6 separate regions of the Homo sapiens genome follow, and regions 1, 2, 3, 5 and 6 are each reported to be linked to region 4. Evidence: microRNA targets listed by miRTarBase, many of them from high-throughput screens and not tested one by one. Region 4 holds a microRNA gene; each other region holds the end of a gene's coding sequence.

Evidence for each region. The annotated mature microRNA hsa-miR-4430 reads AGGCUGGAGUGAGCGGAG and lies in region 4 at 3,539-3,556, shown strand. An mRNA with a match to its seed (bases 2 to 7 or 8) in the 3' UTR can be bound and repressed. Matches are read on the target gene's strand: a 7mer-m8 pairs with bases 2 to 8, a 7mer-A1 pairs with bases 2 to 7 and ends in A, and an 8mer does both.
Region 1: the mRNA of TMEM40 is a reported target of hsa-miR-4430. Seed matches in the 3' UTR shown: 7mer-m8 at 1,382-1,388.
Region 2: miRTarBase lists C10orf67 as a target of hsa-miR-4430. Seed matches in the 3' UTR shown: 7mer-A1 at 3,368-3,374.
Region 3: the mRNA of DPY19L4 is a reported target of hsa-miR-4430. Seed matches in the 3' UTR shown: 7mer-m8 at 1,334-1,340.
Region 5: miRTarBase lists MAVS as a target of hsa-miR-4430. Seed matches in the 3' UTR shown: 7mer-m8 at 1,639-1,645, 7mer-m8 at 3,431-3,437, 7mer-m8 at 3,681-3,687, 7mer-A1 at 3,746-3,752 and 7mer-A1 at 4,297-4,303.
Region 6: miRTarBase lists BMERB1 as a target of hsa-miR-4430. The part of its 3' UTR that is shown has no 7-base or 8-base seed match.

The regions. Positions count from the first base shown.
Region 1 is chr3:12,730,337-12,735,336 of GRCh38, reverse strand. TMEM40 (transmembrane protein 40) reads left to right here. Exons shown (of 12, transcript NM_018306.4): 12 at 544-1,809. The coding sequence ends at 563. Among named protein-coding and RNA genes, the nearest start is that of TMEM40, 26 kb to the left of the region's middle.
Region 2 is chr10:23,199,549-23,204,636 of GRCh38, forward strand. It overlaps C10orf67 (chromosome 10 open reading frame 67), which reads right to left. Exons shown (of 16, transcript NM_001371909.1): 16 at 3,148-4,707. The coding sequence ends at 4,625. Among named protein-coding and RNA genes, the nearest start is that of PTF1A, 9.8 kb to the left of the region's middle.
Region 3 is chr8:94,789,074-94,794,161 of GRCh38, reverse strand. DPY19L4 (dpy-19 like 4) reads right to left here. Exons shown (of 19, transcript NM_181787.3): 19 at 326-4,416. The coding sequence ends at 4,252. Among named protein-coding and RNA genes, the nearest start is that of INTS8, 32 kb to the left of the region's middle.
Region 4 is chr2:33,414,981-33,420,068 of GRCh38, forward strand. MIR4430 (microRNA 4430) reads left to right here and starts at 3,536; the gene lies at 3,536-3,584.
Region 5 is chr20:3,865,171-3,870,258 of GRCh38, forward strand. MAVS (mitochondrial antiviral signaling protein) reads left to right here. Exons shown (of 7, transcript NM_020746.5): 7 at 513-5,088. The coding sequence ends at 977. Among named protein-coding and RNA genes, the nearest start is that of MAVS, 21 kb to the left of the region's middle. RefSeq lists an enhancer at 842-1,343.
Region 6 is chr16:15,586,365-15,591,452 of GRCh38, reverse strand. It overlaps BMERB1 (bMERB domain containing 1), which reads right to left. Exons shown (of 6, transcript NM_033201.3): 6 at 3,194-4,736. The coding sequence ends at 4,624. MPV17L-BMERB1 (MPV17L-BMERB1 readthrough) reads right to left here. Exons shown (of 6, transcript NM_001414674.1): 6 at 3,194-4,736. The coding sequence ends at 4,624. Among named protein-coding and RNA genes, the nearest start is that of MIR6506, 22 kb to the left of the region's middle. RefSeq lists enhancers at 87-381, 1-927, 3,868-4,369.

The sequences.
Region 1 (5,000 bases), not on the chromosome of region 4:
TGTGTTGTGAAGATCAAGTGAGGAATGGATGCAAAGGCCTGAAGTGTGAAACAGTAGAAAAATGGTCTGGTTAGTCTTCATTCTCTTATAGAACTTTACACTTCCCCAAACGCTGTCTTCTCCATGGCTGTACTTGCCTAATAGCAACTGGGGAGGTAGGCTTTAGCAATGTTACACTTGACCAATAGGAAAATGAGGCTCAGAGAGGTGGAGTGACTCGCCCACAGTCACACAGCTTTAGTGGCTGGGCTGGGCGAAAGCACATCGTCTTTCTTGACTAACAGCTCTGTGACCACCTTATGCCTCAGAATGGAGAGGCCAAGTGGCTGTGTGGCTGTGCTGGGGAAATATCTGTCTCCTTTAATCCATGTAATGAAGAAAAAGAAAACTAGCTATTATGACTGTGGTTCATTGAGACCCATGGCTTCTGGGGTGACTACATCATGCCAGCTGTGAGGGGTACTTGGGCATCTGAGGTGATGGTGGGGATGAAGCCTGGCTGCCTTCAGAATCCCATGCCATCCTGTGGTCTTTGCCTTCCAGGGTTCAGGAAGACTGACTGAGGCCACTTCCAGGTGGGCAGCAGAGGCAGGCCCCAGTGTGACCACCACTGCGACCCCTGAGCCCACAAGGGCAGAGCAGCATTCTGAGAGACGCACAGGAGACCAAGCCAGACCAATAAACAGAACACTTTTCCTTCCATGTGGTCTGAATGTTGGCACCAGCCCGGGCAGGGGCATCTCATTTGGGCAGTACTGCTGTGCAACCCAGCTGCAAGGATGGAAGGCAGAGGGTGGGTGTGGGGCCTGAGGCTTCACAGTACCTGGACCAGCAGGAAGATTCTGGGAGGTCACTGCTCTCAGAGGACAGCAAGGGACCCTGAGCTCTGCAAGCTGTGATCTGTCTGGGTTCATGGTTTTTCTCAAATCCCAGGCTATCTGCATGCGCTCTCAGGTGCTACCGAGCCATCCTGGGAGAGATGGATGGTCCACTGCTTTGAGGCAGGGAGCCATCGGGCTGGGGCCCCTTGGTGAACCTGATGCAGGTAAGATGCTGAGGACTAAAACCATTTTTTTTGCACCCAAAAAAAAAGGCAGGAAAATGATCATCAGAAACTAAATGGCAGCCAGGCATGGGGGCTCACAACTGTAATCCTCGCACTTTGGGAGGCTCAGGCTAAGGGTCGCTTGAAGCTGAGAGTTCAAGACCAACCTGGGCAACATAGTGAGACCCCCATCTCTACAATTTTTTTTTAATGACCAAATGTGGCGGTACATACCTGTACATACCTGCGGTTCCAGCTACTCAAGAGGCTGAGGCAGGAGGACTGCTTGAGCCCAGGAGTTCAGGGCTGCAGTGAGGTACGATCAAGCCACTGCACTCCAGCCTGGGCGACAGAGCAAGATCGTTTCTCTAAAATTAAAAAAAAAAAAAAAAGACAAATAAAAATTGCATGTATTTGTAGTGTACAACATGTTTTGAAATATGTGGAATGGCTAAATCAAGCTAATTAACATATGTATCCCTCACATACCCTTTTTTTATGATGAGAACAGTAAAAACCTACTGTCAGCAATTTGCAAAGTATACAATACATTGTTATTAACTATGGTCACCATGCTATGTGATTGATATCCTGAACTTGAACTGAGTTCTTGATGGTCACAGACATGCTGTTCTCAAAACTCAGAAGGGTAACTTCTGAGGTTTTGATTTCAAGTACTTGTATGTAACCTAATTTAACGGGAGCCCAGAGTGCACAGATCAGATATTTATTAAACATATAAATAAAACACAGTTTTCACGATAGAAGTATGAACTTACTGACTTGGGAACAATGTGGTTAGCCTCATTTTATAGGAATGATGGGTCCCTGTGGCCAGCTCTGCCACTGCCTGGCTGTGATTTTATTTTCTTTCTTTCTTTCTTTCTTTCTTTTTCTTGAGACAGAGTTTTGCTCTTTTGCCCAGCCTGGAGTGAAGTGGTGTGATCTCAGCTCACTGCAACCTCCACCCACCATATTCAAGTGATTCTCCTGCCTCAGCCTCCTGAGTAGCTAGGATTATAGGCACCTGCCACCACACCTGGCTAATTTTTGTATTTTTGGTAGAGATGGGTTTTCACCATATTGGCCAGGCTGGTCTCAAACTCCTGACCTCAGGTGATCCACCTGCCTCGACCTCCCAAAGTGCTAGGATTACAGGCGTGAGCCACCAATGCTGGCCCTGGCTGTGATTTTGGTCAAGTCCTCCCCTCTCCCAGCCTTAATGTTCTCATCTGTACAATGGGGAGCATAACAGTGCCCACCTCACGGTATTATGTTGAGAACTGCATGAGATAATTACATAAAGTCTTATGCACAGACTCTGGCACATAGGTGATGCTCAATCAATGGGCGTTATTACATTAGACAGGAGCACAAATCAGATCCCCTTAGGGTCAGGCATACAGAGTCAGCAAGATGTAGAAAAGTGGGGGCTGGGTGCAGTGGCTCACACCTATAATCCCAATACTTTGGGAGGCCAAGGTGGGTGGATTGCTTGAGATCAGGAGTGTAGTAGCGTGTACCTGTGGACCTAGCTACTTGGGAGGCTGGAGTGGGAGAATCGCTGGAGCCCAGGAAGTCAAGGCTGCAGTGAGCCATGATCATACCACTGCACCCCAGCCTGGGTGACAGAGCGAGACCCGGTATCAAAAAAATAAAAATAAAAATGAAAAAAGTAGGGAGCAGGAAGAGGGGAACAGAAGAGCATATACCTGACCAAAGGGGGCAGCTGCTGTCTAGCAATTCCAGGTGAGAACACCAGCTAAGTGGGATCTGTCAGCCAAGCGAACGAAAACCACACCAGGTGCTTTAACAGAAAGAATTTAATAGAGGGACATGTTAACCAGGTGCAGGACTACTAGAAACGCAGAAAGGGACCATAGTATCACAAAGTGTAACTGAGGGAACTGCCTAGGGCTAGAGAGAAAAAGGAAAGAGGTTGTAGCTATTAGAAGTGAGAGGCCGGGGCCAGGTGTGGTGGCTCACACATGTAATCCCAGCACTTTGAGAGGCCGAGATGGGCGGATCACAAGGTCAGGAGATCAAGACCATCCTGGCTAACATGATGAAACCCCATCTCTACTAAAAATACAAAAAATTAGCCCGGCGTGGTGGCGGGTGCCTGTAGTCCCAGCTACTTGGGAAGCTGAGGCAGGAGAATGTCATGAACCCGGGAGGCAGAGCTTGCAGTGAGCTGAGATCGCACCACTGCACTCCAGCCTGGGAGACAAAGCAAGACTCTGTCTCAAAAAAAAAAAAGAAGTGAGAGGCTGGGTGCGGTGGCTCAGTCTATAATCCCAACACTTTGGGAGGCCAAGGTGGGCAGATCACCTGAGGTCAGGAGTTCGAGACCAGCCTGGCCAACATGGTGAAACCCTATCTCTACTAAAAATGCAAAAATTAGCCAGGCTTGGTGGCGGGCACCTGTAATCCCAGCTACTTGGGAGGCTGATGCAGGAGAATCACTTGAACCTGGGAGGTAGAGGCTGCAGTGAGCCGAGATCATGCCACTACACTCCAGCCTGGGCAACAGAGCAAGACTCCGTCTCAGTAAATAAATAAATAAATAAATAGCCGAGCGCAGTGGCTCATGCCTGTAATCCCAGCAGCACTTTGGGAGGCCGAGGCGGGTGGATCACGAGGTCAGGAGATGGAGACCATCCCGGCTAACACGGTGAAACCCTGTCTCTACTAAAAATACAAAAAATTAGCCGGGCGTGGTGGCGGGCACCTGTGGTCCCAGCTACTCGGGAGGCTGAGGCAGGAGAATGGCATGAACCTGGGAGGCAGAGCTTGCAGTGAGCCGAGATAGCGCCACTACACTCCAGCCTGGGCGACAGAGCAAGACTCTGTCTCAATAAATAAATAAATAAATAAATAAATAAATAAATAAATAAATAAAGTGTGAGAAGATTGAGAGAGGGTCCTCCAGAGCTGGGACCCAGACCTCTGGGGAAAGGGCACTGCTTAGCTGGGGAGGTGTCTCTGAGGGGCCTGAGGAGGCTGGTTCTGCAAGTGCAAGACCATTGGGGTCAGACCTCCAGTTTCTTAGCAGAAGCCCCAAATCTAGAGTTTGGCAACTATTTTTTTTTTTTTTTAAATTTCCACTTCTGCTATGGAAAAGAGTATAGTGATTCCTCAAAGAACTAAAAATAGAATTACCATATGATCCAGCAGTTCTACTTCTGCACATATGCCCAAAGGGGACTTGAAGGGATCTCTGTACACACATTTTCAAAGCAGCATTATTTCCAGTAGCCAGAAAGGGGAAGCACAAGCGTCCATCAATGGGCGAATGAATAAACAAAGCATGGTATATTATCAGTTTTTAAAAAAGGAAATTATTTGAGACTTCACAAAAAAATAAAAACCAAAGGGGGAAAATATGGAAATTCTAGCCAGGCATACTGGCTCATGCCAGTAATGTCAGCACTTTGGGAGGCTGAGGTAGGAGGATCACTTGACCCCAGGAGTTCAAGACCAGGCTGGGCAACACGGCAAAACCCCATCTCTGCAAAACATAAAAACATTAGCCAAGCGTGGTGGCACATGCCTGTGGTCCCAGCTACTTAGGTGACTAAGGTGGGAGGATCACTTGAGCCCAGGAAGTGGAGGCTGCAGTGAACCATGATCATGCCACTGCACTCCAGCCTGGGTGGCTGAGTAAGACTCTGTCTCTAAGAAAAAAATAAAAATAAAAAAAAAGAAATTGTGACACATGCTACCACACAGATAAACCTTGAGAACATTATGTTAAAAGGACAAATACAGTTATGATTCCATATATATGAGGTACCTAGAGTAATCAGATTCATAGAGACAGAAAGTGGAATGGTGGGTGCCAGAGGCTGCGGGACGGGGAATGAGAGTTAGTGTTTAATGGGGACAGAGTGTCAGTTTGGGAAGATGAAAACAGCCCTAGATATGGATGGTTGTGATAATTGCACAACACTGT
Region 2 (5,088 bases), not on the chromosome of region 4:
TGTGGCGAGCTGGTTTTTGCCTCTGGGCCGAGGCGCCAGCGCTAGCAGCGACAGCAGCGGGGGGCGCAGGTTTCTAGCCAGTCCCCACTTTCGGACCTCTGGGGGTCTGCCCTTGCTTCTCGGGGAGTCTTGGCCCTTGACTGATCCCCGCAACTTAAGGCCAATCCCATCCCTAGCTGGCCGGCACCTGTTCCAAACAACCTGTTGCGCTGACATCGCTTTGGAGAGGCGCCGGCGCTTTGCTGGTGGAGGCGGGTTGTGTGGAGGCCCCAAGCCTTCAGGAAATAGTTTAGGGTTCCGTTGTGGTGAGAGGCACCCCCTCCCCGCTTCCTGTGGCATGTGGGGTGTTTCACCTCTGCCTGTGTCCCAGGAACCCAAGGCGTCCTGGGCACCTCTGCACCTCGCCCACTCTAGGGACTTCTCATGTAGAGCTCGGCAGTTTGGGTGGATTAGACAAAGATGAGGATTAGAGACACACCGCCGGCTAATTAAATGGGCTCTTCTCCTCTCCTCGTCCCCTCCCCGCAACCCGCAGCCAGATAGGACTCTTCGGTTCCCTACCCCCACTCCTAGGCCCTATGTAAGTGCGGATGGAGAAAGCTAGTTACATTAGCCCTTCTGTCTTAGAGGTACCGGCACCTCGGGGCATTCTCGCTCTTAAAGATGCGTTTTCTGAATTATTTCTAGTTTTACAATTTCTCTTCGGTGACTGCACAGGATCCCTTCTAGCTCTTTTCCTGTTGGAGTCGCTGGACGTCTCCCAAACAGCTAGTTAGTCGCCTATCTCTGGAGCGCAGGCCTTCGGAATTGGATTCAGGGTATGAGTCTAGCTAGGGGATGTTTCTAGAAGTTTTATAAAATCCATTTGGGCAAGCGTTGGCATTCGGATTTTAAAAATATAGACGTGCACTGGCATTGGGCAACTCAAAAAAAAATGTGTCTCCTGGCGCTTGTCAGTGACATGCTAATTACAAATTTTAAAACAAGCCACTTCTAAGCGAAGGACGCCTGGCTGCAACCCCACAACTCACACCGGTGCATATAATAAAATATTAGGGTTCAACAGTTGGCATATGTGGCAATAGCAAATGTGACACCTCGAAGCGATTATCTGGAAGTTTTTCCGTACTTTTGAAAATACACTTGCCGCCTCATTTCTCTGATGGCCGCTCAATAGACACTGGGAGATGGTAGCTGGGCCACCCCTCCCAAGAGTTCTTCTTGCGTGCAGCGCTTTCATCCAGGGCTTGAATTGTGTTGTCAAAGTTTAGCAGACAAGAGGAGGGGGCATGAGAACGGGAGGGTGTCTTGAAAAGTCTTGGAAATCGGTGTATTTTGCAGGTGTAGAAGTGCCTAATAACCATGGCTAGTGCGCGCTCCCCAATGGCGAGGGTATGACAGGGACAGCTGGCTCAGTTTTCAGTGTGAAAACACCCCCTCGGTGGACCAAACACAACGACACTGACCTTTCTTCGGGGGGAACCAGGGATGTGCCTTTGACTGAATTAGCCATAAAGACGTCTTGCTATGACTTTTGTTCCCCACGAAAGCAAAGAAATATTGCGTTTAATATGAGAAGTACTGTTCACAGCTTTTCCGTGCCCCTTAAGAAATATTACAGTGCTGATTTACTGGCCTTCTTCTACCGAGTTGGCCCCAAGGGCGGCTGGGGGTGGTGGGGTGGGGACGGGGCAGTGAGGACAGAGGAGGAGGCGGAGTCAGAGAGCTAAAGTGCCTGTTGCCTGTTTCCAAAGTTCTCTCTTTGCAACAGCAAATTTATCAATCTTTTCATCTGACAATACTTTGAAATATATCATTGTCATCTAGAGTTGTTTGATAGATTATCTGCAGGCACACAGCCTTTTTCAAGGTCAAGTTGAAGATTCTTGTTTGCTGTTTAACTGGGTTGTTTCAAAACTCAGAACAATGCCTGCCTGTTAAATTTTCACTTGTTCTCATGGGGCATTCGAAAGCAAGTTTTCCTATTGACCAGGTCTCTGGACATTTCATCCTCTTGAGCTAAATTCAGCAAACAAGGCTTAGGAATGAAATCAACAGAAGAAGAAATGAGATTTAACTTAGCATTTGCAAATGCCAGAGAGATTAAGTCGTCTTTCATATCTGCTCAAAGTGTGTACTAATTTTTGTCTGCATGTTGCAGGCTGGTTATGGCCAAACACATCTCAACTTTGACTTTATTCCAGTGGGAAGCAGTGAACACACTCCCCTAAACCAGAAAGGCAAAGAAATTGTGGCCACTCTTGTTTTTGCCAGTGCATAACCTGTTGTTCTAAAGGCATTTTAAAATAAAGTCAGCTACTTCTAAGTCACTATGTTTTATAGACATATTTATTTCTATTTTTTAGTGGAAAGACTGGCTTCACAGTTTTCTCTATATCTGCGATGATTGATTTTTTTTATTCAACTAACTTTTATTTACCTTGCAATAATGTTCTGGACCAATGTGATAAATTACAGATATGCAAATTTCTTTCAATGGTGTTGTAAGTGTGTCTAGCTGGAGCTGAATAACTCCTTGCAAGTCAGTCTGTGCGTGCTCAGGACCCCAGGGAGCTGATCAAAGCACCCATTCTCTTTCATCCCCGGTATTCTCCTCCAAACTATTTCGATACAATATGTTTCCATGATGCACTTAATGTGCTAGGGACATAGAACTCATTACAACCTAGCTAGTTCTGCGGACCTCTTTGTTCCGCGGCAGAAAGTCAAAGAAAAAAGGAAAAGCGCTGCCAGTTGCCAGCTTTCTGAAATGCTAAAGCATGCGTCATTTTTCACCAGGTCTCGTCTTGATATCCTCAAAAGACAAACTATGAAACCGGCCTCAGCCCTTTCTGGCATTAATTACACTGCTGTCCAGCCGATCTGTTTTTCCTATTATATGCATTTCTCAGCAGGGATTTTTTTTTTTTTTTTGTAAGACTAATGCAGCTGCAAGTTAAACTATGAATGCATTTTCATCACTATGGGAAAAAAATAAGTAAAAAAGTAAAAAGGCTGCAAAACATACAGCAAAACTTTTGAAGGACTTCTGATGGACAACAGATATAGGGCAGGACCTGGGTGGTTTGCAATTTCTCCCAACCTGAAATTGGCTGAGAGCCTCAGAAATTTCCAATACATCCAGGGTTCTGTGGAGACCTTTATTGTGCCATTTGAAACTTTGCTTTGGTACCCAGATAAATCTTGAAGGTTCAAGTTTCTATTAAAGTTCTGAAATGAAGCAGTTTGATATCACACCCAACCAGGAGGCTGCTTCCAAGGAATTTCTGTCCAGGACGATGGCACAGAGAATACAAATTTTATTTCATTTCCTCTGTTTCTTGTAGGGTTGATTGGTTGGTGGAAATGGCTGGCAGCCAGTTCTGGGAAAGATTCCAGACCTGACTCCGATTAACCCTCTCTGGTGAAACTCTGCTGGAAACCAACTCACCAGCAATTGCCATTAATCTACTTACTAATTAAGCCAATTCATTTCTAAAGGAGAAAAATTCCTTTCTTTAGCCAAACTGATGGGAGGAAATTTGAAAGAAGCGCCAAACTGTGTAACTGTAATTCAGCCAAGGACTGCTAAAACAAGGTGTTGATATATAGCAGCAGATTTAAAACAAGTTTCTAGGGCAACACTCCTTTGGAGACAGCGGCATATAGTGCATAGTAGATGAAGCTCGAATAACGCTCCACAGCGCTATACCATCCCATGTACTTGCGTTGAAAAGAACACGTCTCTCTCCAATTAAATCTTGTTCCTTTTACGCACAAATAAATCACCTCTGCAGCTTTCTTTTGAACTAAAGTATATCAGCTTTATGTGACAACTACCACAAATATATTTCCTGAGACTTAATAAATAACTGTAGAATTCTGTAATCCAGAGCCTACGATTCAGATACAGGCTCTTAACAAGGCCTTACTTGTAGTTAGGGGAATAGAAAGAACCAAGTTGGACATTACGCATGGAAGAAAAGCAAACCCGCCTTTTGGTAAACGGTGTCTGGCATTCCAGCAGAATCTTGGTTTGCATCCTTACCAGGAAGCAAAACTCCAAAGAGTTTCCCTACTTACTAAAGAATTTCTGACAGCCTTTAAGATGCGGCTAGGTGCCCTGTGCCGGGGTAAGATAAGAATGAATCTTGCTTGAGGAAATGTACGATCTCCCTGTAGTCTTCATGACCTACCTTCATGGGGACTAGTTATTGGGTGAGGAGACAGCAAAACAGGTTGATGCTTTTGGTATAGAAAGACTGGATTAGAGAGGGAGTCAAACTTTTTAATTAAAGTCCGTCCCTTCCCACTCTTAGACGCCTGGGCTCTTCTGAGTCCCCGGAGCTCCTGAATGGATGTGGTTGCCCCGGAGGTTCAGTGCGCCCCGCTCACCCAGCACCAGCCAGGGCTTTCCTTAAAGGCGTGGAAAGGAGCGCGCACAAGGCGCGCATTGAGGTCTATTCGAGCGCAGTGCTGGTTAATATACATAATCTGGAGAGATTAAACAATTAGTTTAGAAAATCCTTGGAGATAGTATCCTTTCCGAGGGAGGCACCTTACACCAGGACGGCGAGGCCACTCTTTCTGAGGCCCCGTCTGCGCAGCCCAGGCTTCTGCTGGGTTAATCAACAGTCTCTGCGGGGCTGCTCTGGCGCATGGAGGGCTCCTCCAAGGACTCTTCTTTTGGGGATTCCGACAACTTCCCTAAACGTGAAGAAAGGTGGACAGACATAAACTTTGTTTTACTTATCATACACAGACCACTTCCCACTCTTCCCCCAAAGCATTTTGCGTCATTTTTTTTAGTGGGTCTTCCCAGCCCTGGCCCTAGCTGAGAGCCTCTTCAGGAACCTGGAAGAGAGACGGTGAAGGAGGTAGGGCAGGCAGGCAGATTATCCTTGGCCTTCCAGACAGCGTGTGCCAGCCAAGCTTTGCTCTGAGACAGTCTGGGGCTCTCCGGCAGCCCCAGGCTGCAGGAATGGTCTCAGGTGCCCCTGATAAAGGCCAGTACTCAACATTCTACTTGAAGCCGTTGTAGCAGAATAAAAAAAGTGGGAAGAGTTGTCTGTGTTTGGGCCCAGGGAT
Region 3 (5,088 bases), not on the chromosome of region 4:
CATATTTAATCTAAATACACATTGTCACAGATAAGACTCAGAGGATAATATATATAAAGCTAACTATACTCATCTGTGTTAAATAGCTATACAAAGCTACTAACTTAAAATACGAAAGGGTTGTTTATGAGACATTTCAAACTATAAGTTTGGAATTCTTGTTCCTTTGTGATACCATTATTCTACTAAATACATATAGTGGTTAGAAGTCCAGTGTACCTCTTACAGAACAGCACATAGGATTAGATATGCCAAGATTAAAATGTTGCACATTTTAGGAAACTCAGAAATAATTCAAAGACGCCTTTATGCTAAACTCAGCAAATTTGGTTCCAAAATTTCCTTTATTATGAAAAAGTAAGTATAATGTTTAGACATTAATGTACAGAAAATAATTGTCATATATATTCCTTTATAATTTTCACACCTGTTTATTTTAAAGTGTTAATTCTACACATTAAAAAACATACTAATGAGATCCTGTTTGAATAGGAAATTGCTAAATTTTACTTGCAACTTTTTGTAGCTATAATTCTAATACACATTGGGATCTAAAACTATTAGTAAACAGCAACAATAGAGACTACGTATTTTTTAAATTGGGCAAATGAAAGAAGAATATATTGAGATGTAAATCAGGAAGTAGTTATTTGCGTTACAAATATGCAGATTAATTAATAACATACACCCTTTAAATACTAAAGCATTTAAAATAAGTTTAACAAAAAAGGCAATTTACACTTTTTAAAACCCCATCAGTTGTATAAAGAGAGGCACTACTTTTATCCACGAAAAGCATCAAAATTTTTTAACAGTTCAAAAATAGGGGCCCAAAACAACTGATTTATCAGAAACAAAACAATACAATGGCTATTCACAGTGTAAGAAATTAAATCTATTTTTTAAAGCATGTTTTTCAGTCTCAATTTATAACACACTTTGACTTCCATTTCTGCTTTTCCTTAAATCAATCTGGACTGTGTGGAAGAATGCCGTAACATGAAGCTATTAGCAATCTGGGTTAATGTTCTACAAAAAAAATATGCTGCCTATATACACAGAAAGTAAATGAAGAAAAAAGTTAGCACTGAAGTACAATGCATACTCCTTAGGTTCTTAAACTCTACCAGTCTAACAGAAAGCACCAAGATACAGATGCCAAAGTCAGAAAAAATACAAAGCAGCTCAGAATCAATATCATATATCTTATTCAAGGTAAATTTTATGTTAGATTCTTTGTCTGGCATTTGGGAGGCTAAATTAACTTAGGAGGCTAGAGATCCCATCTCTACTTTTTTTTTCTTTTTGAGATGGAGTCTTGCTCTGTTGCCCAGGCTGGAGTGCAGCGGCATGATCTCGGCTCACCGCAAGCTCCGCCTCGCCGCTTGACGCCATTCTCCTGCTTCAGCCTCGGAGTAGCTGGGACTACAGGCGCCCGCCACCCTGCCCGGCTAATTTTTTGTATTTTCAGTAGAGACGGGGTTTCACCGTGTTAGCCAAGATGGTCTCGATCTCCTGACCTCGTGATCTGCCTGCCTCAGCCTCCCAAAGTGCTGGGATTACAGGAGTGAGCCACTGCGCCTGGCCTCCATCTCTACTTTTAACAAAGACTTGCGCCGGGCGCAGTGGCTCACGTCTGTAATCCCAGCACTTTGGGAGGCTGGGGTGAGTGGATCATCTGAGGTCAGGAGTTCGAGACCAGCCTGGCCAACATGGCGAAACCCCGTTTCTACTAAAAATACAAAAATTAGCCGTGCTTGGTGGCAGGTGCCTGTAATCCCAGCTACTCCGGAGGCTGAGGCAGGAGAATCACTTGAACCTGGGAGGCGGAGGTTGCAGCGAGCGGAGGTTGCAGTGAGCCAAGATCGCGCCATTGCACTCCAGCCTGGGAGACAAGAGTGAAACTCCATCTCAAAAAAATAAAAAATAATAATAATAATAAATTCAAGGCACTTGTATCAGTGGGTTTGCAGTATCAAGGGCAAAGAACATTTTTTATTTCTTTGAGAAATTCCTTCCACCCAAAACCCATAAATTCTTCTCCTCTCATAGTAGATCTTTATTGTCAAACCTAACAACTGTAAGTTACCTAAGTGGAATTACTTGTAGAATTGTGAATCATTTGTTCACTCTACAAATAAGTGAAGAAATAAACTAAATGCTTTCCACTTAAAGTTGTCTAGTACTATTAACTGCAGTTAAAACAGAAGCAAATAAACTTATCTGTCATATTCAATATTGTCATTTCCATAATGAAGCTTTCTTTTCCTTTTCAACTGATGCTGGATGAAAAATTCATTATTTAAAACATCCCATTAACAATTTTTCCAGATCAATTTTATTTAAAAAATAAGTTGACAGAAAGAAGCAAAAGCAACTTACTAATATGTCAAACAAAACACAAGTACCAAACCTAATTCAGCACAGGTAACATAATATAAATCAACAAAAATTCGATTAAATATTTCACACTAGATAAAAAGTAGGGTGTTCTATTTCCCCTACAAAATATGGAAGCTGACTTTTCAATTACATTGTTTTACATGCTCTAATCACAAGTACTACCATGTGACTATTCACTGTGTGCTTAGGTAACTATGGTTATATTTTCAGAAGGCTTGAAGCAAAATACTAGTGACTCACTATTCAGATGTACAGAGTCAACCTGAGGTACACTGCCTGCAACTATCTTAATATAGTTAAGAAATTACGTATAAAAGTGAAATGAGAACCACTGAAACTAATCTATCAGATATATGACATCACCATCAAACAATTCTTCAGCTCCAAAAGAGCAAAGCATCTGAGAGTTAGTCTAAGAATGCATGTACTTTAACAACACATGTATAACAGAAAATAAAGACAACGGAAAAGCTCCCTTCTAATGTAGTGTACTTTTACAACACATATATAACAGAAAATAAAGACAATGGAGAAATGCTCTCTTCTAATGTAGTAATTTAGAGTACTGAAAATGCAATTTTTGCAGCACTTTAACAAGTGAGAATTATGAAAATCTGTTCACTGAACAGGAATATAAGGAAAAACTAAACATGTATCCCAACTTATTAAAATGACACATCTATAGGCTACATCTATCCTGAATCTCTCTATAAGGCCAAATTAACTTTTCACAATTTTCTCTTAATAAATGATTAAAAATATGAAAATACTTAAAGGAACATAGCATTTAGACTGTGAAACTGTGTTGTAAATTTTATTATAGTTGTCATTTTTTCTTGATGTTGAAGACTGCATCACAGTTTCATAAATAACATTGCTTGTGTTTTATAATATATCTGTATGCAGAGGTACGTTTAACAACATCTGCATGTATCCCCAGAAATTGTTGCTAATTTTAGAACACATATTTTTATTCTGATAATGATTTAATTTTTTTACTTAGTACTTCAGTAGAAAACATGTGAATAGATTGTATGCCCCATATCAGTATTTAAAAAAAAAACCTGAACAACATTCTTTTAAATGTCCATTTAACAAAATATATGTTAACGGTTATTGTTTTATCATGATTAAATTGGTATCAAATTAATAGGCATAAGTGAAAAAACTAATCACTTACTAGTCATTTAGAAAATGCAGTAACATCATGCATTATGTATTACTAAGAAAGTTCTCACTTAACATAAGCAGTAGATGAGGAGAACAGTATCATGAAAATTCTAAATATATCTTTATGTATATCCTTAAAAATCACTTTCCTTTATATAATTTCCATTTTAATTTAAATGCCACATATCTTCAGCTAACATTTAAATTAGTTTTTATTGTAAAACTTCAGTTGTTATACATCATAAAATACCTTCAGAAACTTGCTTGAAGGTCGGAATTATTCTTTCTATTAAATAATTATATCACATTATTTATTAAATGTTATGTTTGAGAAATGTATCTGACCTTGCACATATTCAAATTCAAGATCAATATTATAATAGAATGAAGATTTTATGGGGAAAATATTGCAATCAGTAAAAGTGTTAAAGACCATGTAACGGTAAGGAAGACACCTGTCTGGAATATTGCAGAGTGGTAGATATCACATTTAATCAAAGGACAGTAATGCTTGATCTTCTATTTCCCACAGAACTCTGGATCCAGTTAACAGCAGAAGGGGGAAAGAAGCAGCAATATTTCAAATGTCCATACTCTGATCTGCAAAAGACACCGAGTAGGTAGAAGAAAACTGCATTTTACTTCAGGTAGTCTTTGAAATGAAGGCTCTGTTATTTTTCAAGACTGGAAGGATATCACAGTGTTGATTTTATATACAAAGTAGGATCTGTTCCAGTATACTCTAGTGAAATAATTCACATATGGAGAATAGTTAATTTTGACCTCATGACAAAATCGCCCATATTTTGAGTAGGTTAGCTTGTCACCTTCTTCACAAACCATCTATTAAAAGATATAAAACATAATATTAAAAAGCTTATTAAGCTTATAGCAGAAATGCAATCAATATACAAATGAGTATATTTATATGAAAAAACACATTATTGCTAAACATTGTCTATAAAACATCTCACTGTTAGCAAATAGAAGCCTTCTTCATAAGTGAGTCACCATGCCCACTATACTCCTGAACTTCTCATTGACACTGAGAAACCAGCACAAAGGTTTCCAATTTTTAAAAGATTTAATCCTAAAATTTAGAAGGCAGTGTTTCCATAATCCATTATCATCGCTCCGAAGACCTTATCATGCACCCTACCAAGGCTGAGAAATGAACATATTATATTCCTAAATATATTCACTCTTCTCGTGTAGAATTATTTAGTAAGCAAGGAAACTTTCGTGACTTAGTGCAGACCTTTACAATTTCACCGAATGATGTTCACTAAGATAGCTTAGTTAGCTTGAAGAAGTTTTTATAAAAAAAATTAAGTAATATTTTAATGGCTATGAAAGATGTCAGATAGCCAACTTTAAAAGGATGGATTAGCTTAAGTCCATGCCAGGCATGACATGAAAGGAGAAGTAAGCTGATCTTCAAAACAGCAGAAAAGTGGGTATCAGAGCAGAATAGAAAGGCTTCAGAGAGCAGATAGCAAGACAGCACCAATTACT
Region 4 (5,088 bases):
AGAAGAACAAGAAGGATTATGATACAATCTCAAAGACTTTCTATCTCATTATAACCTTCTAAAGTTCTGCTGCTTACAGGTTTTCTTTGAAACGAATTGCATTGTTGATATCAAGAGTATTATGCACGTTCCAGCATCAATTTCTTGGTGCATTAGCTCCCCATTGAATGACACATTGGATGAACACCACTGAGATGAATATCTCTGTCAAGGTTTCTGGAAATTTTGTTGTTCCTCTGCAGGAATACCTTTTATTCTTGTAAATTCAGTGGTTATACTTTAAAAGTTTTCCGATAAAATATTGTTTTTTTAAAAAAAAATTATCATTGAGATATTCTTTAGTCTGATTTTCCAGTATGATTTTTTCTTTAAAGTGCTTCATTAAAAAGCAGTTCTTTGGCCAGGCACGGTGGCTCACGCCTGTAATCCCAGCACTTTGGGAGGCCAAGGCGGGTGGATCACCTGAGGTCAGCAGTTCAAGACCAGCCTGGCCAACATGGTGAAACACCGTCTCTACCAAAAACACAAAAATTAGCTGGGCCTAGTGGCGGGTGACTGTAATCCCAGCTACTCAGGAGGCTGAGGTAGGAGGAGAATCACTTGAACCCAGGAGGCGGAGGTTGCAGTGAGCCAAGATTGCGCCATTGCACTCCAGCTGGGCGACAAGAGCAAAACTCTGTCTCAAAAAAAAAAAAAAGCAGTTCTTCAAGAATGTAACTATTGAAATAGAATCCAAAAAATGCCATAAGCTGAGACATGATAGAAATACCTATACTTTCACCCAAATGCATGGCCAATACTAAGTTGTTTCTTCATATCTTCCGTAATATTTACTATGTGACTTCCCAAAAAATTGCTGACAAAAGAGTGAATTTTAGTTTTTGGCCTTTTGTTTTATAATTATTTCAACATTTTTTGTTGTGGCAGGGAGAACCAGAGACCCCAATGGTTTGTGGCTTTTGTTTCTTAACCGTAAAACAAAAAACCTCAAAAGAAGTTTCTGAGCAATTATTAGTAGGTTTTGTGAAATTTCTCAAAAAGCTGCTGAAATTTTTCTTCCATTTTGAATGTTTGGCTTTCAAATATCTTGTTAATCATAATAACTTTATATTATTACTAGTTAACATCTTAAGACATAACATGCCAGCCAACTAGGAAGAATTTTATCATTAATGGCAGTGGATATAAATTCATAATTTAAATGGTCTTCTTGATAACTTTGGATTTGAAGGGACTACCTGCTGGTCTAATTATCCTACCATTCTTTTCTTTTAACCTCATATTGTGGCTGATGTAGAATTTATATTTAGAACAGAAGGGTTTGCTCTGCCATTTTCTTTAGGTTTATTCTGCTGTTGTCTTTCTTTCACCTATTTTTTTACAGAAATATTTTTAAAGCCAATTTTTCCAATATGAGGGTTAACTTAGTTAAAATTAGATAATATTATCTAAAAATCCCTTTGCTGGGCACATGTTAATGGAAATGTCCAGTCTCACAGGAAGCAATCAATTGAGCCAGCACTGTTATCCCTTCCACACTTTTTTTGAGACAGAATCTCACTTTGACACCCAGGCTGGAGTGCAGTGTCACGACAATAGCGCACTGCAGCCTTGACCTCCTGCGTTCTGGTGATCCTCCCACCTCAGCCTCCCGAGCAGCTAGGCCTACAGGTACACGCCACCATGACCGGCTGATTTATTTTTATTTTTATTTTTAGTACAGGCAAGTTCTCGCTATGTTCCCCAGGCTAGTCTTGAACTCCTGGGCTCAAGCGATCTGTCCATCTTGGCCTCCCAAAGTCCCGAGATTTCAGGAATAAGTCACTGTGCCTGGCCCCTTCCATACTTTTTTCTCCACAGGATATCTTGAAATCACTGGGACTTGGGCACTGTCATTATAGCAGTTAGCATACCCTGACTGAGAGAACATCAAGAACAAGCTTGAAAAGTTTGGGGTCCTGTTCAGCCACATCTCCCCATTCTGCACTTCTACAAGTGGCTTTTTGAACCTCAGTACAAAATTTTACCTTTGCTCCTATTAATTTCTCTTCTGTTGTTGGTCCCTTTCTTTAGCCTTATGTTAAGATGTTTTGAGATTCTGATTCTGACTTCCAGTATGGTTGCTGTCTCTTCCAAGTTGACATACACTCTCCATCTTTATTCAAGATATTAATGTAACTATTAAGAAGGATATCTCTTTAAGACAAAAAAAAAGTGCAATACAAAAAAACAACTTCCTTTTGCTGAGTTGCTGAGCCCCTTGTGAGGCTGACAATGGCAGGATGGTTTAGTCTGTCGTCTCCAGAGGGTTTCCTGCCAGGGGACTTCTGGATTTCAGGATCGGCCAACATGAGTCAAACAGCTCTTGGAGCTCTTTATTCTCAAACCTTCTCTGCAAATCAGAGCTGGAGATTTCAGGATTCCCTCCCCACATTCCTCATGACCAGTACCGCTCCCTATTTTCTCAATTTTTCATGAGTCCCTTCAAAGAGAAATAATTTAAATAAAAAGTCTTTCCCAGATTTACCTTTTGCTGATTTTCCATTTTTCCCAACTAGGCAACAAGACTTCATTTTGTTCACTGATGTGTCACACAGAGTATTTCAAATAGTTTGAAGCCAGAAGAAGCAAAAAGGGAAGATGCTAAGAGGTCACCAGGGCCGGGCGTGGTGGCTCATGCCTGTAATCCCAGCACTTTGGGAGGCCGAGGCGGGCGGATCACTTGAGGTCAGGAGTTCAAGACCAGCCTGGCCAACATGGTGAAACCCTGTCTCTACTAAAAATACAAAAATTAGCCGGGTGTGGTGGTGGGCGCCTGCAATCCCAGCTACTCAGGAGGCTGAGGCAGGAGAATCGCTTGAACCTAGGAGGCAGAGGTTGCAGTGAGCCGAGATCACACCACTGCACTCCAGCCTGAGCGACAGAGTGAGACTCCATCTCAAAAAAAAAGAAAAAAGAAAAGGCAACCAGGTTTCTGTTTTGGGGGGCTACATTGAAGAAATCCAGTGTTTCCTACCTGCTTTCCATGGTGGCGGCGGGGGGGAAATCTGAATGAAAAAAGAGATTAGATCCATCCTTGAGCATGGTGGGTTTGAGGTGCCTGGAAACATCTACACAGAGATGCTGAAAGTCCATGAAACTGACTAGTCTGAAGCTGAGAAGGCGGACTGGCTTAGTGCTCTGCAATGTGCAGATAGAATATCTATGGATACTGAGTCAGGGCTCTCACAGTGTTGGTCTCAAGGCAATCCTGGTCCTTAGAATAGACATGGAAAAAGGCACAAGGCAGAAAAGGCCCTCTTTCTTTCCATGTCTATCTCCCTCTATGATCATAGACAACATGCGTTAAAAATCATATTATAAGCTGCTCTTAGAACTTGATCGCTTCAGCTCACAAGTTCAAGGCAAGTCTCGGCAACATAGCAAGACCCCATCTGTACGAAACATTTTAAAAATTAGCCAAGCATGGTGGCATGTGACTGTCATCCCAGTTACCCGGGAGGCTGAGGTGGAAGGATCACCTAAGCCCAGGAGGGTGAGGCTGGAGTGAGCGGAGATCGTACCACTGCACTCCAACCTGGTGACAAAGGGAGACCTTGTCTCAAAAAAACAAAACGACTCCCACCTCCAATAAAAAACCCTCATCAACCCCAAATCTAGACAAGTAATGTCCACTTTTGCCTGAGATTTTTTTTTTTTTTTTTTTTTGAGGCAGAATCTCGCTTTGTCGCCCAGGCTTGAGTGCGGTGGCACGATCTCGGCTCACTGCAACCTCCACCTCCCAGGTTCAAGTGATTCTCCTGCCTCAGCCTCCCGAGTAGCTGGGACTACAGGCGCATGCCACCATGCCTGGCTAATTTTTTGTATTTTTAGTAGAGACAGAGTTTTACCATGTTAGCCAGGATGGTCTCAACCTCCTGACCTCACGATCTGCCCACCTTGGCCTCCCAAAGTGCTGGGATTACAGGCGTGAGCCACCGCGCCTGGCCTTGCCTGAGGTTTTTAAATCAGCTTTACCCATCCTACTGACTGGGGGAGGGTAGCGGGTAGGTGGATGGGTTGATAATTTCCACCTCCATAGCAATCACCCTAAGCCTTCTATCTTGTTCCAGTCCTACTCTTATTTTGCTTATGTCTCTGCCCACCTTCAACCTCCTAACTTTGTGGTCACTCTTTCAAATTCTGTCTGTGGTCTTTGCATTTGGTATTTGAACTTGATCTCCCTGCTATTTGAACCTTCAGTTACCCCCAACCTCAGTTACCATCATAGATTTTTCTTTGGAAGAAATACCTTTTATTAGTCAGGATCCATTCAGCAGACAGAAGCCACACCAGGTAAAGGAAAAGGAAAATTTTAATATGAAGAATTGCAACTAGGTAAAAAGCCATTAGCTAGGTAACTGAGAAGGGAAAAAAGATCTCTAAAGTATCACAGAGGTAAGTGGCAACTGCAGTCATCAGCTACCACCCTTTCAACTGAGGGAAAAGAGGGAAGAGATTGGAATTATTAAACTTGGAAACGTAGAGTAGGAGTCTTGGAGACTCAAATTTTCTGAGGAGTTGGTACTGGCTGGCTGGGGTTAATGTCTCTGAGTGGGTACAAAGGAGCGTGTTTTATAAATGGGACAAAATTGAAAAGCAGATTCAGCTGCTGCTGTGAGAAGGCCGTGCCTCTGCCCATTTGAAGAAGCTTTGCTCAGGTGACATCACAGGAATAAGAAGTAGACAGGAGGCAGCAAATTCTCTCTTCTTCCTCCAGCCTTGCAGGCTCCCTCTACCACCCCCTAAAGAGCCTGAAAGGTATCTGGCTGGAAAAATAGAAATGTCGTTTGCAGTTTCTGTCCCAGCAACCCAAAGCGAGGTATAGAAGTGTATTTGAATTTGAAAGATAATAATGCTGTAAGGTCACTGTTTCTGACCTTAGCCAGCTCCCACTCCTCCCCAGCTAATTACTTCCCACTCCTGCCTCCAGTAGAGAATGACATATTTACCATTCATTTCCCACTGTGTTCTCCAAGTCTCTGCCCTTGCCCTGGCAATTGTAAGCAAATTGTTACTATCACTTTCCTTTCCTGATTCCACATTACT
Region 5 (5,088 bases), not on the chromosome of region 4:
AGGATGCCTGGTGTGTCCCTCCATGGCCAGGCTTTACAGAACGCAGTCCCACCTGGAGCAGCCACTCGGACCCAGCAGCCCCCCATTGTTGCCTGCTCCAAGCCTCACATCTAACCCTAGCTGCGGCTGTCTGCTGGGAAGAGCCAAGTCCATAGGGCCCTTTGGGCACATGGCCAGGCCTCTGACCCTGTGGCTGCTCTCTAGTTCTCAGGCCCAGGCAGGATGTCAGTGCAGGATGGAGCCCCGCCCTACCAAAGGCTTCCAGGTGGGCATGAGCTCACAGGCAGGCCAGGGAGTAGGGAAAGGCTGCCCTGGAGGAGGCCACCATTGGTGCAGATTCTTGGTCCCCTCTACCCCCACTGCTCCAAGAAAAGGTGGCCTAGGGGCATTATAGATTGGGAATTGAGGGGTTGGAGTGTTAGTTCATGCCCTGGCCTGGGAATGGGACCGCCCTACCAGGTTCGTCTCCCTGCCAACCCCAGTCCCTTCCAGTGCTCTCCTTTCTTTCCCAGGAGACCCCAGCAGCTCCAACACCCGCCGGCGCCACTGGAGGCAGCTCAGCCTGGCTAGACAGCAGCTCTGAGAATAGGGGCCTTGGGTCGGAGCTGAGTAAGCCTGGCGTGCTGGCATCCCAGGTAGACAGCCCGTTCTCGGGCTGCTTCGAGGATCTTGCCATCAGTGCCAGCACCTCCTTGGGCATGGGGCCCTGCCATGGCCCAGAGGAGAATGAGTATAAGTCCGAGGGCACCTTTGGGATCCACGTGGCTGAGAACCCCAGCATCCAGCTCCTGGAGGGCAACCCTGGGCCACCTGCGGACCCGGATGGCGGCCCCAGGCCACAAGCCGACCGGAAGTTCCAGGAGAGGGAGGTGCCATGCCACAGGCCCTCACCTGGGGCTCTGTGGCTCCAGGTGGCTGTGACAGGGGTGCTGGTAGTCACACTCCTGGTGGTGCTGTACCGGCGGCGTCTGCACTAGTGAAGCCCTGGGCTCTTCCCACCACCCATCTGTTCCGTTCCTGCAGTACACCTGGCCCCTCTCCGAAGCCCCTTGTCCCTTTCTTGGGGATTGTGGAGGCTGGGTCAGAGGGGAGTTAAGGGACTGCAGGCCTGGCAGCAGGACATGCCTTGGCTGAACCAAGTCCTGAGAGCAGCATCTCTGTCCCCACGGTGCCTTGTGTGGGTCCCCGTCCTTGGCTTTCTGGGTCCTGGGCTGCCCCCAGTGCTCCAGACCTTCCCCACTGGCAATCCAGGTTATCATCCATGTCCTCCAGAGGAGCTTCCTCCTCCAGGCCTCAGCCCTGTTGGCCCAGGTGGAGCAGGAGGGACCACTGGAACATGTGGTGCTTGGGAATGCCTCTCCTGTTGCATTGGTCCCTGAAGGCCTCAGGGCAGGTATGTGGTGTGTGGGCGACTCCACAAGACCTGCCTCCCATCCTGGCAGCCCAGCCTGAGACCGTTGCATTGAGGCAGGCAGGAGCGGCAGGGTGGCTGCTCTCCAGGAGCCCAACTGCCTTGAGTTCCTGCCCCACTGGGCCCCCTCCCCTGCTGGGCAATCCTGGGAAGGTCTGGAGGTTCCTGTGGACCTCAGGGAAGCCAGGGGCAGCTGTCAGGCCTGAGGAAGACCTGTGGAGCTCCTCTCCAGCCTCCTCTTTCCCTCCCCTCTGGTCTCCATTCTCTTCAGCTCCCTACATGGGCTGGGGAGGAGACACCTGGTGGGCAGAGCTCAGGCAGAGGTTTGGATTTCAGCTCCCTCACTTCCGGGGCTGTGTGGCTTTGGCAGATGTCAGACTTCTGGTCTTGCTTCTCCACGTGGACAGTGAGTATCTGGCTCATTCTTCACTGGGTTCTTCTGAGATTGAACCTACAGGTGTTTGCCAAGTGCCTGGCCCAGAGCAAGTGGCCACTGCTTCTCCCATCTCTCTCCTGCCCAACCTGGTAGAGCTGAGGGCATGAGAGGCAGAGTGCACAGTGGTCAAGGGTGCAGCTCTGCAGCACAGGCAGCCTAGGCCTGCGTCCCAACCTGCCTCTCACCAGCTCTGTGACCTTGGGCAAGGGATTTATCTGTCTGTCCCTTAGTTTTCTCACCTGTAAAAGGAGGATAAGTATATATATATATTTCCCAGTGTTGTGAAGATTAAAGGAGTTTATCGATGTAGGTCTTAGGATGAGTCCTGGCATTTACCAAGGGTTGGATATATGTTATTATCACTATTAAGTGTTGAGGGTCCAGGCATGCTGGGCAACAGGGACCCCATCTCTACAAAAAAGTTTAAAAAATTAGCCAGGCGTGGTGGTGCACCTGTCGTCTTAGCTACTTGGGAGGCTGAGGTGGGAGGATCACTTGAGCCCAGAAGCTTGAAGCTGCAGTGAGCTAGGATCGTGCCACTGCACTCCAACCTGGGTGAGAGAGCGAGACCCTGTCTCAAGAAAAAGAAAAATGCAGAGAAACAGGAGTCTTGGCTACTCCTTTAGAGGCAGACTCAGACCCTCCTGCCTCACAGCTTTATCTTTGTATTTGCCCCTTACTTTATCTTGTGCCTTGAGAAATTGCTGGGGAGAGAGGTATGTCCACTGGGCAGCTGTACAGGATGGAGGATATAGGGCGTTTCCACTCCCAGCAGCCAGGTTCCCTCACCCCAAGCTCACCCACTGTTGGGGAGATTATCTACAATAACACCAGAAACACATTGGGGTGGATTGGGGGTATCCTTATGGGTTCTTTTCAGGGAACCATTGCTGGACAAGGCACAGGAGCCACCTCCATTTCTGAGCTCTGCAAGGGACAAGAACTAGAGCCATCAGGGGCTGGGCTCACTGTGGCCCCACCCCAAGCCGTCAGCCTCCAGGGATCTACACCCTGCCTTGGCTGCTACAGCTTTTTCACTCCACTGCCCTAGGGGAGTTCAGCAACCTAATGATCTCTATCTCTGAACATCTCTTCATCCCATGCTCCAAGTCCAGCAACCTGCACCCTGGAACCAGGAGTGGACCCTACCCGAGCTGTCTGTATTAATCCCCATCCCCCACCACCAATCTTAAAAAGCCCTCTGTCCCCCTACCCTAAACCCCAGTTAGGTACCCATGCTGGGCAGGTCAGTTAACAATTTATGCACAGGTACTAGTTTTATTGTATTACCGTTCCAGGGTAGCTTTGAAAAAAGTATCTCAAAAAGGCAACATGGGCCGAGCGCAGTGGCTCACGCCTGTAATCCCAGCACTTTGGGAGGCCAAGGTGGGCAGATCGCCTGAGGTCTGGAGTTCAAGACCAGCCTGGCCAACAGGGTGAAACCCCGTCTCTACAAAAATAAGAAAATTAGCCAGGTGTAGTGGCAGACGTCTGTAATCCCAGCTATTCAGGAGGCTGAGGCACGAGAATTCCATGAACCCAGGATGCGGAGGTTGCAGTGAGCCGAGATTGTGCCACTGCGCTCCAGCCTGGGCGACAGAGTGGTATTCTGTTTCAAAAAAAAAAAAAAAGGCAGTATGTAGCCCCGAAGACTGTTGCCCAAGTGGTAGAATGTTAGCACACTACCAGCCTAGGTAAAAAATACAAAAAGTAACTGGGCATGGCGGCGCCCATCTATAGTCCCAGCTACATGGGAGGCTGAGGTGGGAAGATAAGTCACTTGAGCCCGCCAGGAGGCGGAGGTTGTAGTGAGCTGAGATCGCACCACTGCACTCCAGCCTGGGTGACCGAGTGATACTCTGTCTCAAAGAAAAAAAATTATAATTTTAGCACAGTAACCAGCCATGATGGGAGATACCCTGGGTAAGGCATGTAGAAAGGGTTGAGGGACCTTCCCAGTCCCCTAGCCCCGCCTCCCATCCTCCCATCTTTTTCTTTTTTCTTTTTTTTAGAGAATCACCCAGCCTGGAGCGAAGTGGTGCAATCATAACTCACTGTATCCTTAAACTCCCGGGCTTAAGCGATCCTCCTGCCTCAGCCTTCTGAGTAACTAGGACTTCAGGTACCTGTCACCATGCCTGGCTAATTAAATTTTTTTTTCTTTTTTTTTTTTGAGATGGAGTCTTGCTCTGTCACCCAGGCTGGAGTGCAGTGGCGCGATCTCAGCTCACTGCGACCTCCACCTCCTGGGTTCAGGCCATTCTCCCGCCTCAGCCTCCAGAGTAGCTGGGACTACAGGCGCCTGCCACCACGCCTGGCTAATTTTTTTGCACTTTTAGTAGAGACGGGGTTTCACTGTGTTAGCCAGGATGGTCTCGATCTCCTGACCTTGTGATCCGCCCGCCTCGGCCTCCCAAAGTGCTGGGATTACAGGCGTGAGCCACCGCGCCCAGCCAAATTAAATTTTTTATAGAGATGAGGTCATGCTGTTATGTTGCCCAGGTTGGCCTCATGAGATCTTGCCTTAGCCTCCCAAAGTGCTGGGATTACAGATGTGAGACACTGCACCCAAACCCCACCACTTTTTTTTTTCCTTTTTCTTTTTTTGAGACAGTCTTACTCCGTTGCCCAGGCTGGAGTGTAGTGGCATGATCTCAGCTCACTGCAACCTCCGCCTCCCGGGTTCAAGCAATTCTCCTGCCTCAGCCTCCCGAGTAGCTGGGATTACAGAGGCCTGCCACCACACCCGACTAATTTTCGTATTTTTAGTAGAGACGGGGTTTCTCCATGTTGGCCAGGCTGTTCTTGAACTCCTGACCTCAAGTGCTCCACCTGCGTTGGCTTCCCAAAGTGCTGGGATACAGGAGTGAGCCACTGCGCCTGGCTGATCCCAGCACTTTTCAAATGATGCCGCTCAAAGCCGTGACTTGGCCTACTTTGAACAGCAAACTTGTTGCTGCTGTTGTCAACCTGAAGGCCTCTCAAATGCCAGCTTCAAGCAGGGTGTGAATTGGCCAGTGTCAGATCTCAGGAGTCCTGTGTTGAGAGTGTGGCTTTCAGCTGCGGGGAGCTGCACTTGGTGGGGAAAGCCAGGCAGGTCACCCTCACAGCCAGATAATGTGGAGGTCAGAACCCAAGGAAGGGAGTGAGACCTCCACTCCCAGTGGGGGACCTGGCCACCCATCCTTGGGGACCTGAGAAAGCGTACTTCACCTTGGGGTGAAGGCTGGGTGGGGCCAGA
Region 6 (5,088 bases), not on the chromosome of region 4:
CCCAGGTAATTTTTTTGTATTTTTAGTACAGATGGGTTTTCACCATGTTAGCCAGGATGGTCTCAATCTCCTGATCTCGTGATTTGCCCGCCTCGGCCTCCCAAAGTGCTGGGATTACAGGCGTGAGCCACCGTGTCCAGCCCTGTTTGCTTTTAAATGGGAGAGACCTGTTTAAATCCCTCCGATGGGAAGAGAAAGAACAATTGGGGCTACAGTGGTGGGGAGGGAGGGAGATGAATGATGACTCTGTCACTAACAACCCCTGGGACCGTGGGCAGTGGATTTACTGCCACTTCCTCATCTGTAAAGTGAGAAGTGATAACAGGATCTGACTCACTGTTTCAAGTGTTTATTCTGCCTCCGCTTGCAACCTCTTGCAACCTCCGCTTGAAAAGGGTAATGGATTTACTGCTACTTCCTCATCTGTAAAGTGAGAAGTAATAACAGGATCTGACTCATCAGGCTGATGTGAGGAGGGAACCAGCCAGTGTGAGCACATTGCTCAAGGCATAGAGATAAGCTACAATAAATGTTATTCCCATTATCAACCTCCTCCATGGCTTCTAAAAGGAGCAAGTCTAGGTGTGCAGGACCCCACAGTCTGCAAGGTTTCCCAGCTTGGAAGGTGGCCCTGGTAATCTGGAAGCGTCTGTGACAGCTTAAATAAATTGGATTTTTTAATGTTTTCTTTTTTTAAAAAAATCAGTAGGAATTACAGGAACATACAGTAGGTGTACCCAGAGCTTAGCGGAAGTACCAGAGGCAGGATTTTGATGAGGGTTTGATCTCCTCTGGTTCGTTGGATCTGTGAGTGACTGCTGTATAACTGGCCTGAGGTCAGACCTCGCTGACCCCCCCACTCCCCTCTCCCCTTTTTTTTTGAGATGGAGTCTCGCTCTGTCGCCCAGGCTGGAGTGCAGTGGCACAATCTCTGCTCACCGCAAGCTCTGCTCACTGCAAGCTCCGCCTCCCGGGTTCACGCCATTTTCCTGCCTCAGCCTCCTGAGTAGCTGGGACTACAGGCGTCCACCACCACGCCCGGCTAATTTTTTGTATTTGTAGTAGAGATGGGGTTTCACCGTGTTAGCCAGGATGGTCTCGATCTCCTGAACTCGTGATCCGCCCGCCTCGGCCTCCCAAAGTGCTGGGATTACAGGCTTGAGCCACCACGCCCGGACCCCCCAAGCCCCCCCTTTTTTTTTTCCGAGATGGAGTCTCACTCTGTTGCCCAGGCTGGAGTGCAATGGTGCGATCTCGGCTCTTTGCAACCTCCGCCTCCTGGTTTCAACCGATTCTCCTGCCTTAGCCTCCCGAGTAGCTGGGATTACAAGCATGTGCCACCACACTTGCTAATTTTTGTATTTTTAGTAGACATGGGGTTTCACCATGTTAGCCAAGTTGGTCATGAGCTCCTGACCTCAAGTGAGCCTCCCACCTCGGCCTCCCAAAGTGCTGGGATTACAGGCATGATCCACAGTGCCCAGCCTTGACCCACATTTTTTATGGGGAAAAGAGGGCGGTGGGCCCTTTGCAGCCTGAGTTTTCACTGCACGTTGGAGCGGGAGGGGTCTGTGGTGGGTGGAATTGGGTCCTCCCCAAATGCATGTCTACGTGGAGCCTCAGAATGTGACCTTGGTTGGAAAGAGGGTTTTTGCAGAAGTAATTAAGGAAAGGGTCCAAATGAGATCATACTGCATTCGGGTGGCCCTCACTCCAATGACTGGTGTCTTTTTAAGATGAGAGGGTGCACAGAGGCACATATACAGCGGAGGCGGCCACGTGGAGACAGAGGTGAAGACTGGAGTGGTGCAGCCAGGGAACTGCCAAGGTGCCAGGAGCCACCAGGAGCTGCAAGAGGCAAAAGAAGATTCTTCCCCACAGAGGGAGCAGAGCACCGCAGACAGGTTGATTTCAGGCTTCTGGCCTTTAGGACTGTGAAAGGAGACGGTTCCACTGTTTTAAGTCACCCAGTAGAAGGTCATTCATTATGGCATCCCCAGTACACGAAGAGTCTGGCTTCATGATTGGTCTAGGTTGGTGAAGGAGGACACGGGGTCCTCTGAGGCCATTGTGGTGGCACTGAGTAGCCCAAGGGACCCTTTTCAGCATCAGAATGGTGGGAAGTGGTGTGCAGACCAAAGCCGCGAACACGCAGAGTGGGAGGACTGGGGTCTAGCAGCCTGCTGGGAGGGCCTGTCCAACCAAAGACCTTTTGATCTACAAATTTTTTTTTTTTTTTCGAGACGAAGTCTCGCTGTGTCACCCAGGCTGGAGTGCAGTGGCGCAATCTCAGCTCAGTGTAACCTCTGCTTCCCATGTTCAAGAGATTCTCCTGCCTCAGCTTCTTGAGTAGCTGGGATTACAGGCACAAGTCACCACACCCAGCTAATTTTTGTATTTTTTGGTAGAGATGGGGTTTCTCTGTATTGGCCAGGCTGGTCGCGAACTCCTGGCCTCAAGTGATCAGCCTGCCTCTGCCTCCCGACGTGCTGGGATTACAGATGCGAGCCACCGCACCCAGCCAATTTACAAATATTTTGAAAATGCTACTTATGAATGGCCCAATAATTTTACTTCTAGGAGTTTATCTTAAGGAAAAAATAAAAAATTCAGATGAAACCTTATCCCCCTAGATGTTTATCAAGACACTATTTTTTTTTTCCAGGGGGTGCGATCTTGCTCTGTTGCCCAGGCTGGAATACAGTGGTGTGATCATGGCTCACTGCAGCTGGAACCTCCCAGGCTCCAGCAATCCTCCCACCTCCCAAGTAGCTGGGATCACAGGCCCGCGCCACCGCATATGCCCAGCTATTTGTATTTTTAGTAGAGACAGGGTTTTGCCATGTTGCCCAGGCTGGTCTCGAACTCCTGGACTCAAGCAATCCTCCCGCCTCAGCGCCTGGCCCAAGACACTTTTTTTGTTTTTTTTTGAGATGGAGTCTTGCTCTGTCACCCAGGCTGGAGTGCAATGGCACGATCTCGGCTCACCGCAACGTCTGCCTCCTGGGTTCAAGTGATTCTCCTGCCTTAGCCTCCCAAGTAGCTGGGATTACAGGCACCCATTACCATGCCTGGCTAATCCAAGACACTATTTATAAGAAAACCTAGAACCAGTCTACACATCCAATAGTGAGGAAATGATTAGATGAATTACAGTACATCCACAAGATGGATTACTAAACAGACATTGGCATGATTTATGAAGAGTGTTTAATGTTTACAAAGAGCTTTTAATGATGTGGAAGATGGTGGTATAATAAGTAGGAAAAAACTGGTTATAAATGATACCACAATATGATGTCAACGATGAAAAAATGCACAAAAAAAGACTTTTTTAAAACGTCGAAACATCAGAGTGGTCTCTAGTTGGAGGAATAATTTTTTTTTTTTTTAAGACAAACTTCTTCATACTTTTTGTACTTTTAAAATGATTTACTATGTACATGGATTACTTCCATAATCAAGAAAAAAAGTAAAAACTTTTAAAATGCTGTGAACGTGGTTTCCATTTTTATTTTCTCTGATGGGTGACTGCACATCAGCATCTTGAGTTATGCTAACTACTTAGGCTGGTCACGACACACACACACATACAGAGAAGTCACACAGGCTGTACCGGGCTGGCTGTTGCAAATGTACATGAATTACACGGGTTGAAGTTGTTTGGCAGCTAGTTAACATATGCCACCCAATGACGGGACACAATCTGGTCACACGCTGCCTCTCCTGCCTGTTGCTGTTCTTTACAAAGGTCCGTGTGTCGGGCTGGCAAAGTGGCATCCTGCTGGCATCTCTGTGGTGGCCCCGGAATGGTGGAGTGCCCAGGTCAGCATCTACTCTGGGTCCCATTCTCAACTGCTCTGGCCTTGACATCAGAGCTTCCGGTTCCCTGCTGGCTCTTCTGCACACTGGATCCATGCCAGTCCAGGCCCCCTCCAGGCACACACCTGAGGCAGACTGAGAGCACAATGGACGCTGTCCTGATGTGAACTGTGCCCAGACACAGGATGGGGGGAAGCGGGAGATGTGACCACGACACCACACACAAGCTCGATCTTTACAGATGGGCCCTCTGGGACTGCTATATGGGTGGTGCCCGAGAGACACGGGGGCCATGTGGAGCCCTCCAGGGCACAGTTGCTGGGAGAGGACAGACGGGAGGGGACCTGTGCCCATGTGCCTAGCTCTGAGAGCAGAGCTAGGAGGGTGGATGGGGAACGTGTCCGACATGGTGCTAGATTGTTGAGAAGTCACGACTACACACAGCTGGGGAGCATGCCCCTCTCCCAGTTCATTCACACGGTGGGTTAGATACAGCTAGAGAGAAGTGGAGATATGCTTTTTTGAGGGAGGACCTTTCCTGGTGTTTGGATAAACAGTGAGACAGACTCCTGGGTTCGGCATGCTCTGGGGAGGACCATGCGACGGTGAGAGACTCCCTACTGCTACACTCTGTACAGGGTGGCCAGGCCCGCCTGCCGTGCCCATGGCCTCTGGTGACAGTCACGGGCTTGCCTTCAACCCCTTCTGCCTTGGAGAGCTCTTGGGCCCCGGTGAAATGGGGGCTATAAAGACAAGAGGGTGGGGGGGGGTCCCCATGGCCCAGGGCACCCCACGTGGGGGCTACATGATGTTGCACTGGGTGGCCCCGCAACAATCCTTGATCAGTGCCAGCCCCGTCTTGGCCACCGTGGGCTTGCTAGGTGGGGGCTCTGCTTTCTTCTCTGCCCGGGAGCCTGCAGCAAGATGTGGGCACAGGGAGAGGGGGAGAAAGGAACAGAGAGAGAGAGGTGAGGTGAGCAGAGCCCTGACCATCTGCAGCCCAGCCCCACTGCAACCCCTGGCCAGGTCTTGTTCCAGGCCTTGTTCAGGTGGTATGGAGAGCTGATGCACATTTCATATGATCCTCAGCTGGTCCTCATTTTATAGTCCTCATTTTATATGGTCCTCAATGCTCAGCTTCCAACCCTAACTTTCAGCCCTTCTCCTAGTCAGCTGTTATCATCATTGTACCTGCCAAGCCTAGCACAGGGCCTGACATCCAAGAAGTATTTGGTAAATAGATAAATGGGAAATTTTGTTCAAGTC